Homo sapiens: one gene and its partners. The protein of the gene in region 1 purifies or fractionates together with the protein of each later gene. This does not show direct contact. Each region holds a gene or a part of one and is shown on either strand. Other genes may lie near its edges.

Region 1 (5,298 bases):
TGTTTATAAAGATTTACCCATGAAATGTGAGGGAATAAAATAGAAATAGAGGAAGAAAGATGCATTTATGGAAGCTTAAAGAATGAGAAGGGAACTTAGAGGTTAGATAGTATGAGATGATATTTATCCAGGGCTCAGACTCTGGAGCTGGAAAGAGCTGAAGATACTTAAAGCTACCCATTCCTGCCAGTAAAGTGGAGAGAGCAATGGAATCTATAGTTAGGGTGATAGGTGTAAGGATTTAATGAGATGACCTATGCAGAGCACAGTGGCAGCCACATAGTAAATATTCAGTAAATATTAGCTGCTATTGTTGTTGTTGTTGTTGTCATTGTTACCATTTTGTCATTATCATTATAAGTGTTGTTGCTAAAAAACAGTATTGAAAAGGCAACATGTTCACATCCATTTGCCTGCAGAAAGGTTTTGCTAGCAGAAAAGATGCCATCTCTGGTACTGTTATATCCAAATGATTCCCACTCAAAGAAACTTTCCACCCTATTGATTGAGTTGACAGAATAAAGTATATTATCCAGAACTACTGTATTTCACAGAACTGAAAGTGACCAGCTGGTATAATGAAAATCATTTAGAACTAACTGGGGCTTAGGCAGCCTTAAAGAAGGCATCCTGTTTTGGCAGCTGACAAGTCACATGTAGAAAGCTGCGGGGTCCCAGTTGGAATCAATGCATTTCTAGATTTCTCTTCTGCTTCACCTATGCATGTGAGAGACAGTCCTTTTCTTTCTTAATTCTTTTCAGTGCAGATATTGAGCATTTTCTTCTCTATCCAGGGAGGCCATTGAATATGTGCTTAACCTGCTGGTTGGCTCCTCAGAAGTTCCAAGGCTGAATTTTTGCCACCATCTGGGTGCCTTCAGCTTATGGGTTGGCTGCTAAGGGAAAGGAATAGCCCTCCCCTGCCTGCCTGCCTACCATGGCCCAGTCTGTCTGCTTTTGTTTTGTGTCACTGCTATGGCACAATTTTGCCAGGCTCGTGGTCTGCCTCCTTCATGCCGGTGGGCCTACTTCTGTCACACAAGTGGACTGCTGTTTCTCCCTTTCCTCCCAAGATCTTTCTTTTTAATTTTGGGGAATTAGAACTCTGACACAGGGATCTGAAAGACAAAAGTGAATTACAAGAGTGAGAGGAGTCTGCCATAAAATTCTTTCCCAAGAAACTCGGAACTGGGAGTTGGTCGTTCCTGGTTGCTACTGATCTTTAGTAGAGTTGTGTTTTGCACGGAGAATAATATTTATACCTTAACCACAGCCCACCTCCCTTACTTCCTGATGGGAGGTATGATCTCAGGAGAGTTGCCTGACCTCTCTGAACTTTGGCTTCCTCATATGAATATTGGAAATAAAGTCCCCTGAATGCATGGGATTGCTGTGAAGATAGCGGCTATAATGCCCTTGCCCAATTCCTGGTACTGACTGGATGTTGAGCATATTTCCCAGTTAATCCCGATCTGTGAACAACAGGGGGCAGTAATTTTAATATTTATTTAACGGAGAAACTGAAGGCCAATAGAATTAAATTAGAAATCAATAACAACAAGGTATTTGGGAAATCCAAGTAAAATGACATAGCAGATGACAAACCGTGGTACCCGTCTAGTGCTTCTTTTAATAAACATCAGTTCCAAACACTCTGAATTTGAGAAGGGCTCAATGACCCAACTGCACTGCCTGCCTCGAATTAGCAGAAACCTCTTTATTTAGTAGCCCCCAGGCTGTGGTCATTTCTTCTGTGCTGTCTGTAAGCACACAAGAGTCAAAAGGCTCTGTCCCTCAGATAGGAATTCTGGGTGGCAATTGGATAAAGACTTTCTTTTGTGCTTAAAGATCCACTGAAACCTTTCTCTGTTCATTCCCTCCATGACTGTGGTGCTTATAAACAGGGAACTGCTGGTGACCATGAGCTATTTGCAAACTAAGAAGCTTGAGGATGAGATATTGGCCAAATCTGTTTTCTTTGTTGATGCTTTTGAGTGACATTTGCCCCTTTGCTCTGTCTTAACCTGTAAACATTTAAAATGAAATGTTCTGGTTTTTATGCTGTGTGTGTGCGTGTGTGTGTGTGTGTGTGTGTGTGTGTGTGTGTGTGTATGAATCAAGCAGGGGTGAAGATCTCTTTTGGGGATTGAGTCAGTCGAGTTTGGAGACTTCGTTTTCTTTTTTCTTTGGCCTATTGTCTGAGCAGTTTATTATTTGGCATCTGAAAACCATAGGCTTGCTTGTTGTGTTATTTCCCTGGGGATAAGGCAGAGGAGAAAAAAGCAAGGCTGGAGAGAGGGGAGAGAGTGTGTGAGTTTGGATGGAGCTTTAAGAGGAGGGGAGGGAAAGGAAGACAGAATGGAGAAGCAGCTGGGAGAATATCAGAGCAATTGCCAATCCACCACGAAAGTGCAAAGCTGAAGGTTCCCTTTGGGTGAAGTTGCAACTCAGAAGGCAACTCTGTTCTCCTTTAGCTAAAAACTCCTCTCCCCATCTGTCCTACAAAACTCACAGCGAAGCCATTTTAAATCCGAAAACCCTCCTTATGACTAAGCACTGCACATGTTTTCCACTAGAGCACCATGGACCATTTCTAAAAGTACATTAATTAAAAGGAGCAGATTTTCAAGTACAATATGAGCCTGCCTTTCCCTGGTGGGTGTAGGGGGTAAACTTTAGCGCATGTTTGGCTATGAAGTCTATAAAGATCAAATTGGCTGAACCAAGCACTCAGATATGAGTGTTGACTTGGAAGATGAAACCTAACACTCCAGGGGGCACAGAATCCAGAGATGTCGCTGGTTGGAACTGGAGGCATGAAGAAAATCAGGGCTGGCCTCGTTTGACAAAGCATTGCCAGAGTCATGCTCACTCAGAACAGCAGAGTGAACCTACAGGAGGAAGCAATAGTCGGGGGTTCTCTGATAGCTCCCTTCTTCCTGGTGCTAGTGTTTGAGCTGCTGTATGTGTTTGAGCTGCTGTATGTAAGTGTTTGAGTGCTGTATCCTGGGGCACTGAAGGCAGCACAGGAGCCCTTTCTTTATCTCTTTGGACATGGAGCAAGAGCCACTTCCGGTTGGTATGTTTTCCAACCCAGCACCCAGCCTGCCTCGAGTGATAGGTGGCTGACTTGAGTTGCCTCGATTCCTCTCACACTGGGAGTGCTATTGTCTTCAAGTCACCCTCCTCTCCTCGACTCCTTAAAATCAAACCTTGTAAATATTTTCCAGCCCCATCCAGGGTTAAGGGTAGCCAGGGCAGAAATTCTTAGCATTTCATTTCAACTGGGCAAGATGCCAATTTTTCCAGCTCTTTTCTTGGCATCCATTCATCAGTTATGAGTCCTTAGAGATGCCTGCTCATGAAAGTTCCAAGACTTAACTAAGAAACAGCCTATTTTCTATGGTCACAAAATCTGGTAAGGTTTTAAGGTAACTGTTAATATAGAAGGCAATGTATGTTTTGGGTGTCTATGTGTCTGTGTATAGTCTATGGTTAATGTTGATGTGGATGTATGATAACTGTCACAGACTGAGCGCCTACTGAGTGTTTGCTACGAAAGATGCTTTATGTAAACTTGTCTTGTTAATTCTTACAGCAATCATGCAGCTAGATATTATTGGTTCTATTTAGTAATTGAGAAATCAGGACTCCTGGAAGTTAAGTAACTCGTTCAAGCTTACACAGAGAGTAAAGAGTAATGCTGGGATTCGAACCCAGGATAATTAGAGTCCAAATCCTGTCCACCATTCTAGGCTTCTTTATACTTTTCATTATAATGTCCCCTGGGGATGTGTTTGTTTCTCTTATATAGCTCCTTTATGAATCCCTCATTTGAGAAACACCTCATTATTTAGCCATTGAATTAAAATCTCGTTGGTTGATCTTTGGTAAAGTTGGAAACACACAAGAGAATATGTCAGACTTGAAACAGAACATAGGGGTGTCTTCACCTTCTGCTTTTAATGTGGCTTTTGGAATGAAAGTGTGAGATTGCTTGGAAAGTCAGAAGACACCCTGAGATGAGAAGTAAAAACTGCAGGCAGGTGGAAGAAGTCCTTTGCTGGACTACAGGGAACATAGGGAATTCTTCTGGTCTAAACTTGTGGCTGTGGGCAGAGAGATGGGAGTTCGGAGAGAGGGAAGCCAAGCTTGTTGCTCTTGATCGCCAGTTGTGTGCACATCAGGTTCTAACTAAAATGTATGTTTCCGTTTTCTGAGCCTCAGTTCTTTCATCTTGAACATGAAGGTCCTAAATCAGGTGATCTATATGTTGTCTTCCAGCCATGACCTTGATGAGTGCAAACTTTCAGAATGAATTCAGCCTCATCAGGGAAGGAGTGTAATTTGCACTGTTGGCCACTCTTGGCGGGGAACTAAAAGGTCAAGTTTTAGATCAGGACCTGACTTCTCTGTGTTGTGAATATGTGCTGGAATATGAGAAGTGGTAGCCCCCCAGAGAATGGCGGGAAGCTTCCTGGAAGAACGTCTGACCTTTGGATGCTTTCCACTAGTGAAGAGGGGGTGTCAGTGGGCAGTGTGTTGGTGTTGCTCGTTCACTTTCAGAAGCTCTCCAGGGCTTTGTTATGTATGCAAGCATCCTACAGAGTGCTAGAGACCAAGGCTTCTCAAGTTTAATGTGCATCTACCTGGGGGCGTTGCTGAAATGCAGATTCTGAATTTTTAACAAGCTCCCCTGGGATGCTGATGCTACTCCTTCTAAACTACCTTTATAATAGGCATAGAGGAAAGAAAATTTGACTAAATTCAGAAAGTCCAGAGTCTAGTTCCAATTGTCACTTATTTGAGTAAACCTCAAATAAATCCCTCAGCTGCACCATGACTCAGTTTCTCCATCTGCAGAGTAATAAAATAATATTTAATATTTAATGATTACTGCGTGCCAGGCACTGTGTTCACTAGGTGTTCACTGTTTTATGTGCTGTATTTTACTTGATCCTTGAATTAGGAGGAAGGGTTTGTTACCATCTGCATTCTGCAGTAACTAAGCACAGAGAGGTTGAATAACTTGACCGAGGTCACACAGCTAGTTAGTGGCCAACTTGGGATTTGAATTCATATCACCTGACTCTGGAACCGTCACAACTTACAGACATAAGAGATGTGAAATATCTTGGGACTTACTGTGTGAATGTGTGTGTAATTATATTATATGTACAATTACAAATATTTCAGGTACTTGAGATTATAAGAAGTAGATGTTTCCCAGATGAGGTTTTATTGTTTTTAAGTAAAAAATGTTCTGATTTATATAAATTAAGGTAAAAGGCATTGTGA
Region 2 (3,500 bases), on another chromosome or scaffold:
GCGTGAGCCACCATGCTGGGCTTCCTTCCTCCTTTCTTTGTTATCCCATCCCATTTTTTGTCCCCTTCCTTTTTATCCTGTCTCTGCTCTTTTCCTTCTTGCCCTTCTCCCCAGTCGAGCGGTTCTTGTGGCTACCACAGCTGTCGACCCCCTTAGGCCTAGAGGACTTTGGCCCAGAGGGGAGTTAGGCTGGGCCCCTGAGAGCCCACTGAGAACAGGGTTTGCTGGTGAGGCCCACAGCCCCTTCTCTAGGTCAGCACCCCCAGTGCCAGAATCTCCTGCCCCAGATGGTTCCTGAAGCACAGTCCTCCCTTCCACTCCCCTGCTCTCAAGCATCTATTCAGCTTTTTGTAACCAAGATGGTTCATATCTAGCTTTTTTGTTATTGTTCTCTTTTCTCTTTAAAGCTGGGGAAGCTCCAGGCTACCTACACAACCTGGCCCAGGCTGGTCACGGTGTCCCCCCTCCCTGCTCTGTGCCCTCTCCTTCCAGAAATCCACCATGGAGAGTAAGGATGAGGTCAGCGACACCGACAGTGGCATCATCCTGCAGTCTGGTGAGTGTTCAGGGAAATCCCCCTGCCCTAGTCCCTAGTCCCTGGTCCCTGGTCCCTGGCCCTGACTCCTGAGTCCTGAGCCCTCAGGCACTAGGGCTGGCTGGGCTGAGACTCCCAAGGGCTGAGAGGAAGGGGAGGGAGAGGCCTCTGCTGGGAGGAGGGGGAGGTTCTGGAAGGGCTGGAGCCTCAGGGACATGTGGAGTTTTCCTCCCTGGAGAAAACTGGCTTGGAGTTTTGGTTCTATCTGGAAGAGGGATCTGCAATGTTCAACTTTAGCCCCAGCTGAGAAGTTGAAAAATCTCAGGCAGGCACAGTGGCTCATGCCTGTAATCCCAGCACTTTGGGAGGCCAAGGTGGGCGGATCACAAGGTCAGGAGATCGAGACCATCCTGGCTACCACATAGTCCCAGCTATGTGGGAGGCTGAGGCAGAAGAATCGTTTGAACCTGGGAGGCGGAGGTTGCAGTGAGCCGAGATCGCGGCATTGCACTCCAGCCTGGGCGACAGGGCAAGACTCCGTCTCAAAAAAAATATATCATCTGGCCAATGTGAAGGTCTTGCCTCTCTGTTTGGCCAGACCTGTGGGCCTAGTCTGGCCTAGTCTTGACAGAGGACAAGAAAGAAGAGGCTTATGTGTGTGTGCAAGAGAGAGGGGTAGTGGGGAGAGGGAGAGAGAGAGACAGGAAGAAGAAGGAGAAGGAAAAGAGGAAGAAGAAGGGAGGAGGAGTGGGGGGAGGACTGCACCGGCAGAACTCCCTCCCCTGCACTCCCCCACCATAGGTCACCTGGTGGGACGACCCTCCCTTCTGAGTTGTAACATTTGTGCAGCCAAGAGACGTGGTGTTTTGTGGCTGTGACACAGGCCACAGCAGCCAGCCTGCAATTTGTGGGCAGGCATGAGATGTGTGTGTGTGTGTGCATGTGTGTGCATGTGCATTCCCCTAGGGGTGGTCAATAAGTAACGGAGGAGGCTTCCATCTTCAGCCTCCCTGAGCATGTGCCCCCCAACCCTTGCAGGCCCCGACAGCCCGGTCTCCCCAATGAAGGAGCTGACCCATGCAGTGCACAAGCAGCAGAGGGCCCTGGAAGCGAGGCTGGAGGCCTGCCTGGAGGAGCTGAGGAGACTCTGCCTTCGGGAAGCGGTGAGGCCCCAGCCAGCACACACAAGCATCGGGTTCATCTCAGGAGCTGTGGAGCCACGTGTGGGGATGCGGGAGCTGGGGAGAGGGAGCCCCATTCTTGAGGGAATTCTGGACATCAGGCTGGGGGCTGGGGCCCAGAGTCCCCATGATGCAGTGTTTGACCTTGTGCTGGATGGAGAAGAGTCAGACCCAGGCAGGGGCCCAGGCACAGAGAACAAAGTTCATCAGGGGCTGCAGAGGGACTGCACAGACATAAGTGCATATGAGTGCTGTAACCCGGGTCGGTGTAGCTCTGGAGGAAGTGATCAGAAAGAGGTCTGAAGGGAAAGGGGAGGAGTGCAGAGTGGGTCTGAAGACAGGAGAGACAGTGTGGAGGATGGGATGAGGTGGGGTGGAGGGTGGTCCCACCAGGGCTTCTATGGAAGGCAGGCACATGCAGTGCAGGGGCCAGTGAGCCAAGTCTGGGCAGGTGGAGAGGACCTGGCTGGTCTCTGCTTCCTCCCCAGGAGCTGACGGGCACCTTGCCAGCGGAGTATCCCCTCAAACCAGGGGAAAAGGCCCCCAAGGTTCGCCGCAGGATCGGAGCGGCTTACAAACTGGATGACTGGGCCTTGCACAGAGAGGTGAGGAACCTCAGGAAGCTGCCAGTACCCCTCGATCCCCAAAGCTGATCACTGAGACGCCACACCTCAGCTCAGTACCCTGGCAGGTTCCCTTCCACCCTTTCACACCCAGTGAGGGTGCTTGGCTGCCTGTTGGTGAGAGACACCATGAATATGTAGCCCAAATGGCTGTGGAGAAGGGGCGCCACTAAGGAACCGAGAGCTGGGAGCTCAAGGGAGGACACTGGGTTTGACCCCATTGGGCAGAAGATCAGTTAAGAGCACCAGCCACCAACCCAGCGGGCAATAGCCTGCTCAGACAGGTTACTCTGGCCCCTAGGGCTGTCCTCCTTTCTCAGGAGGAGGTGGGGGCAGTCAGGCCCTGGGTGCCCTTCCCCTGTGGCGTCAATGGCAGCAGTTTCCCATGGGCCAGCCTGCCCCACCCTTTGGGGTCAGGAGGGAAAGTGTCCCACTTGGGTTCCCACCCTGCCCGGTTCAGCAGGTGGGCTGGTGGGTGGGTGCCCATGCCAGCTTTTCAGGCTGACAAGTTTGCTTTTCGGCTCCTCCCACTCCTTCACCCTCTGCTCCACGTCCGTCCATTGGTGCTGCTGTCTGCCTCTCTTCTGTCCTCAGGGCTTAGGACTGGGACCTAGAGCACTGTGTCAGGGCTGCTGTCCACCCTCTGGGCCCCCAATCTCCCTGCCTCTCTCTAGCCTCACTCCTGCCCCCTCTCTCAGGACCCCCTAAGCAGCCTGGAGCGCCAGCTGGCCCTGCAGCTGCAGATCACAGAGGCAGCCCGTCGGCTGTGCCTGGAGGAGAACCTCAGCAGGCAGGCTCGGCGGCAGCGGAAGCACTCCATGCTGCAGGAGGAGAAGAAGCTGCAGGAGCTCCAGCGCTGCCTGGTCGAGCGGCGGCGCAATAGCGAGCCACCTCCGGCTGCTGCTCTCCCCCTGGGCCGAGGTGAGCCGGCTGCCCTGAGGGGGGCCATGCTCCTTAAATGAGCTTTTGAGGGATGGTGGGCGCACAGCCCCGTGCCACTGCCTTTGCATTTGGCTCCAGCTGGGTAAAGCTGATTCTTGGGTTCAGCTCCACCCCATCCTGATTCTCTCCAACTCCAGCAAGGCTTCCCCATCCTGTGAGGTCTTCTTCTCCGTCTCCTTAGAAAACACCCTACTCTCTCCTTCCGTATCCTCCTCAAAA
Region 3 (3,500 bases), on another chromosome or scaffold:
TGCAGGAGCCCCCAAGAGTCCACAGACGCATGCTCTCTGCAGGTGCCATGCAACACAGGTGGGGGGGCATGGGGTCAAGAAAGACCAGACTACCTGTCATCGCTCGACTTCAGCAAGCGATGGGGTCACAGGGTTAAAATACCAAGGAGCGCGTGTTAGGGGTAAACCGAGATGGCAAACATGCGAGCACAGAACCATGCTGTTCTGCGGAGGGGCAGTCATGCAACACGAGACAGAGCTTCAGGCTGCAGGCTGGGTGCTCGGTCTTCTCACGGGTGGCCCAGGGCCCTCTGAGCATGCGGTGCCCAGCGGGCCTGGCTCTTGAGGAAGCTCCACTGTACCTCAAACTGGGGCATATCCGGGGTGGAGCAGGCCCCTCGATCCGGGCTGTCCTCAATGCCCCCAGACTCATCATCCTGGCTGGGGGCCCCCTTGTTGAGATCCCGGGAGAACAGCAGGCCCTCAGTGTCCGAGTCGCTTTTGTCCCGGTCGAGCTCAGGCAGGCTGCGGGAGAAGTCTTCGAAGGCGCTGCCATGGTAGTCACCAATGACCGTGAAGTCCACCTCAGCCTCCAGGCTAGACGTAGAGCTGACCGTGATGCTGGAGCACTTGCGCTCAATGGCCAGGTGGTTGTCCTTCAGGAACACCGTGTCCCTCTCCTGGTCCTGGTCCTCATCGCCTGTGTCACTCTCTGGGGCCCGGGGACGTGGTGGTTTGACTTTCTCCTCGGAGCCCTCCCTCAGCCCTGCTCTCTATGGCCAGATAAAATCAAAAGAATGGGGATGTGGGGTGGGGAGAGAGAGAGAAAGAGAAATCAAGATGGTGAATGTCAGGAGAAATCTCGGGGCTGTGTCGACATCCTGAATGGAAGAGCAGGCCAGGAAATGAAAAACACCCCAGGAAAGGTTCCTTGAAATCATAACAAGCATAAAAAAAACAAAAACGACTCAAGAGTGGAGATGCCCCTTTCTGAGGGTCTCACACTGATGGCAAAAGCAAGTACAAAGCAAACGTCCTGCCAGTGACTCCTGGACAGGAGGCTCCATCCAAGGGTATTGGATCTGGGAGCTTATTGGAAGCAGCATTGCACGAAAGGCAGGGATGGAAGCCCGGACCCCAGGCCCATCCGTGCAGGTGGGCGTTGAGAAACAGAAACTAAGGAGGGAGATCCAGGGATTCAGGGAGACCCAGGAAGGGAAGGCAGAGAGGTTGGAGCCAAGAACTTTGAGGAACAAAAGAGGAAGCCAACATGTTTGTCAATTCCACTGAGTCTCCGGGGGAGGGGTCAGCATCGACTAGAGAGAAGAGCAATTCAGGGTCAGGCCTTTTGGGCACGAGCTTCTTGGGAGCTGAGTGCTACGCCAGCTCCACCCTGGGCTCCATGAGTGGACCACAGGCAAGTCAGGGAGTAGAGGCTCTGGTCCCATCAGTGTAATTGACAACAGCGGGCCAAGGCAGTGCCTCGGGGAACCAGCAACTCTTGTCCGACATACATACCTCTCAACTGGCCTGTCAGGGATTAAACACCACACACACATTTTTGGCTGGTTCATAACATTCTTTTTAAAGACCAACCTAATACCCATGAAAGATTTGTAAAGAACTTGGCTTCTGGTTCTAGGGATTCAGTGGGCTTAGACATTCACTTGCTAAGCGAGCCTCCATTTAGCCAGTTTCTGGAAGGTTGAGAGGTGTGAGGGAGACATTCCAGACAAGCCAGAGTTGAGCAGCACGAGAGGTGCTGCCACAGCAGGTGGGAACCTAAGGCGGCGATGCATCCTGGCCGGGTGAAGGTGACTGGGTCATCAGGGCACAGAGGGGCTGCAGAGACCTGAGGGCCCGAGGGGCTGGCAAATCTCAGGCGCCCCCCCTTCCCAGGGGTGTTGGCTGCTAAGTTGGTGGAGCGCTTCTCTTCCCTGACCGCATCTCCGGATTTGTTCTGGATTAGAGAAGACAGTTAGTCTTAAGGAGGCAGAAAGAAACTTGGCACTGGGACTGAGAGGGAACCAGAAGTGAAGGATGGAAACCTCTGGACTGTCAACTTTCCCAAGGCGGGAGAACCAGGGATGGGAAAGGATGAAGAAAGATCGCTGGACAAGCCAAGCAAGGTAGGCAGGAACCCAGCGGGTATGAGCGGCAAGGCAAAGCAGGTGTGTCATTTGCTGGTGGTGGCGCCACCTTCTCCATGGGGGTTGTGTGACCCTCTGGGCACCAGGTCACACCAAAAGCTGAGGGTCTTTGTGGCCAAGCTAACATGGGCCAAGCAGAGAAGCCCATCATTCAGCCTGAGCTACACCCAGGCCCGTTTAGGGAAAAAACTCACAGGGATGGATAAGCAGCCTCTGATTGCAGAAATGACGAGGGGCCACTGAAACATGCTTCTAAAAACTACAGAGCATGCGGCCAGCCCCCATGGGCGGGGAGCAGCGGTGGGGGCGGGGGCTCACGCGGCCAGTTACCCCAGTTCCAGTAGCTTCTGCCAGCGTGGTTTCACAGCCTGAATTGGGGGACACGGGCTCTAGTTCCGTGTGTGCTTCCTGGTAGGATGCAGAAGTGTCCTCCCTGAAGTGTCTGGTAGCCAGAGGTATCACTGTGGAATGTGTGGCTTTGGGGCTGGCAAAGTCCCCTGGGGGCTGGAGTTGGGCGAAGCCCAGGTCTGAGAGCGTACTCCGCTGCTGCTCTGCTTGTCCCACGGGTGCCTCTGAAGATACGTCATTTGGAAGGGACCTTGCTTCACCCTCACTCATTCGGCGAGTTTCAGCTCCGTGGGTCTCAAATATCCGAATTTTGTTGGCCACTGAGGTCTTGCTAATATCTTCTAGGGAGCCCTCTTGGTCCCCAGCCTGGAAAGAGGTCATCTCCCTTCGCTTCCCTGAAGGGAACCCAAACCCCAGAGGTATGCGCCCCTCAGCTTCTTCAGGGACTACTCTGGGCTTTCTGCTGGTGATGGGAGGAGGCCTGCGCTCACCTCCTGTGGCAGGGGACACCACAAACCCTACTTGGTCCTTGGGCTCTGGGCTGGCTTTCGAAAGATGGACATGTCTAAGAAAGGGCTCCCTGAGCTCCGAAGGCTCCCCTGACCCATGGGAGGTTGGGCTTGGAGAAGCTTCCTCCAGAGCTGCCAGGTCCTCAGAATGACCAGGGGAGGCTGGCAGGGGAATGATCACCTCCATGTGAAGAAATGCTGAAGCCTCGCGGTCCTTCAGCTCAGCCCCTCCTTTCTGGGTGGGAACCACTCCCCTCTCTTTGGGTGGGAAGTTGCCTCTGTCTGGTTTGACTGGCTTCCTGACATTCAGAGGGATGGCCCGAGGAAGGGCGCAGGCCTGGGGGTCGGGATGCACGCCCTGTCCTCTGTGAGGAGGGTGCTTCTTCAGTTCCTCTGTGGGACTTTCCTCAGCCTTTCCCAGCAAATCTCCACTCACGGGGGTCCCTTCCTCTCGGGCTGCGCTGGCTGTCAGGTGGGGAAACTCTCCTTCCACTCCCCACTGGGCATCTTCCCA

Evidence for each region.
Region 2: the proteins of PRICKLE2 (region 1) and INAVA purify together in Homo sapiens (co-immunoprecipitation; one large-scale study listed by IntAct). This does not show direct contact.
Region 3: the proteins of PRICKLE2 (region 1) and EPB41L1 purify together in Homo sapiens (co-immunoprecipitation; one large-scale study listed by IntAct). This does not show direct contact.

Annotation. Positions count from the first base shown.
Region 1 is NC_000003.12:64,218,234-64,223,531, reverse strand, and holds part of PRICKLE2 (prickle-like protein 2), read left to right. Parts: intron 1-5,298.
Region 2 is NC_000001.11:200,897,900-200,901,399, forward strand, and holds part of INAVA (innate immunity activator protein), read left to right. Parts: intron 1-407; coding exon of another isoform or gene 408-501; coding exon 502-556; intron 557-1,573; coding exon 1,574-1,698; intron 1,699-2,204; coding exon 2,205-2,321; intron 2,322-3,037; coding exon 3,038-3,260; intron 3,261-3,500. UniProt on the Homo sapiens protein: Expressed in peripheral macrophages and intestinal myeloid-derived cells, is required for optimal PRR (pattern recognition receptor)-induced signaling, cytokine secretion, and bacterial clearance.
Region 3 is NC_000020.11:36,206,740-36,210,239, reverse strand, and holds part of EPB41L1 (band 4.1-like protein 1), read right to left. Parts: coding exon of another isoform or gene 2,460-3,500; intron 1,940-2,459; coding exon of another isoform or gene 1,832-1,939; intron 753-1,831; coding exon 342-752; intron 1-341. UniProt on the Homo sapiens protein: May function to confer stability and plasticity to neuronal membrane via multiple interactions, including the spectrin-actin-based cytoskeleton, integral membrane channels and membrane-associated guanylate kinases.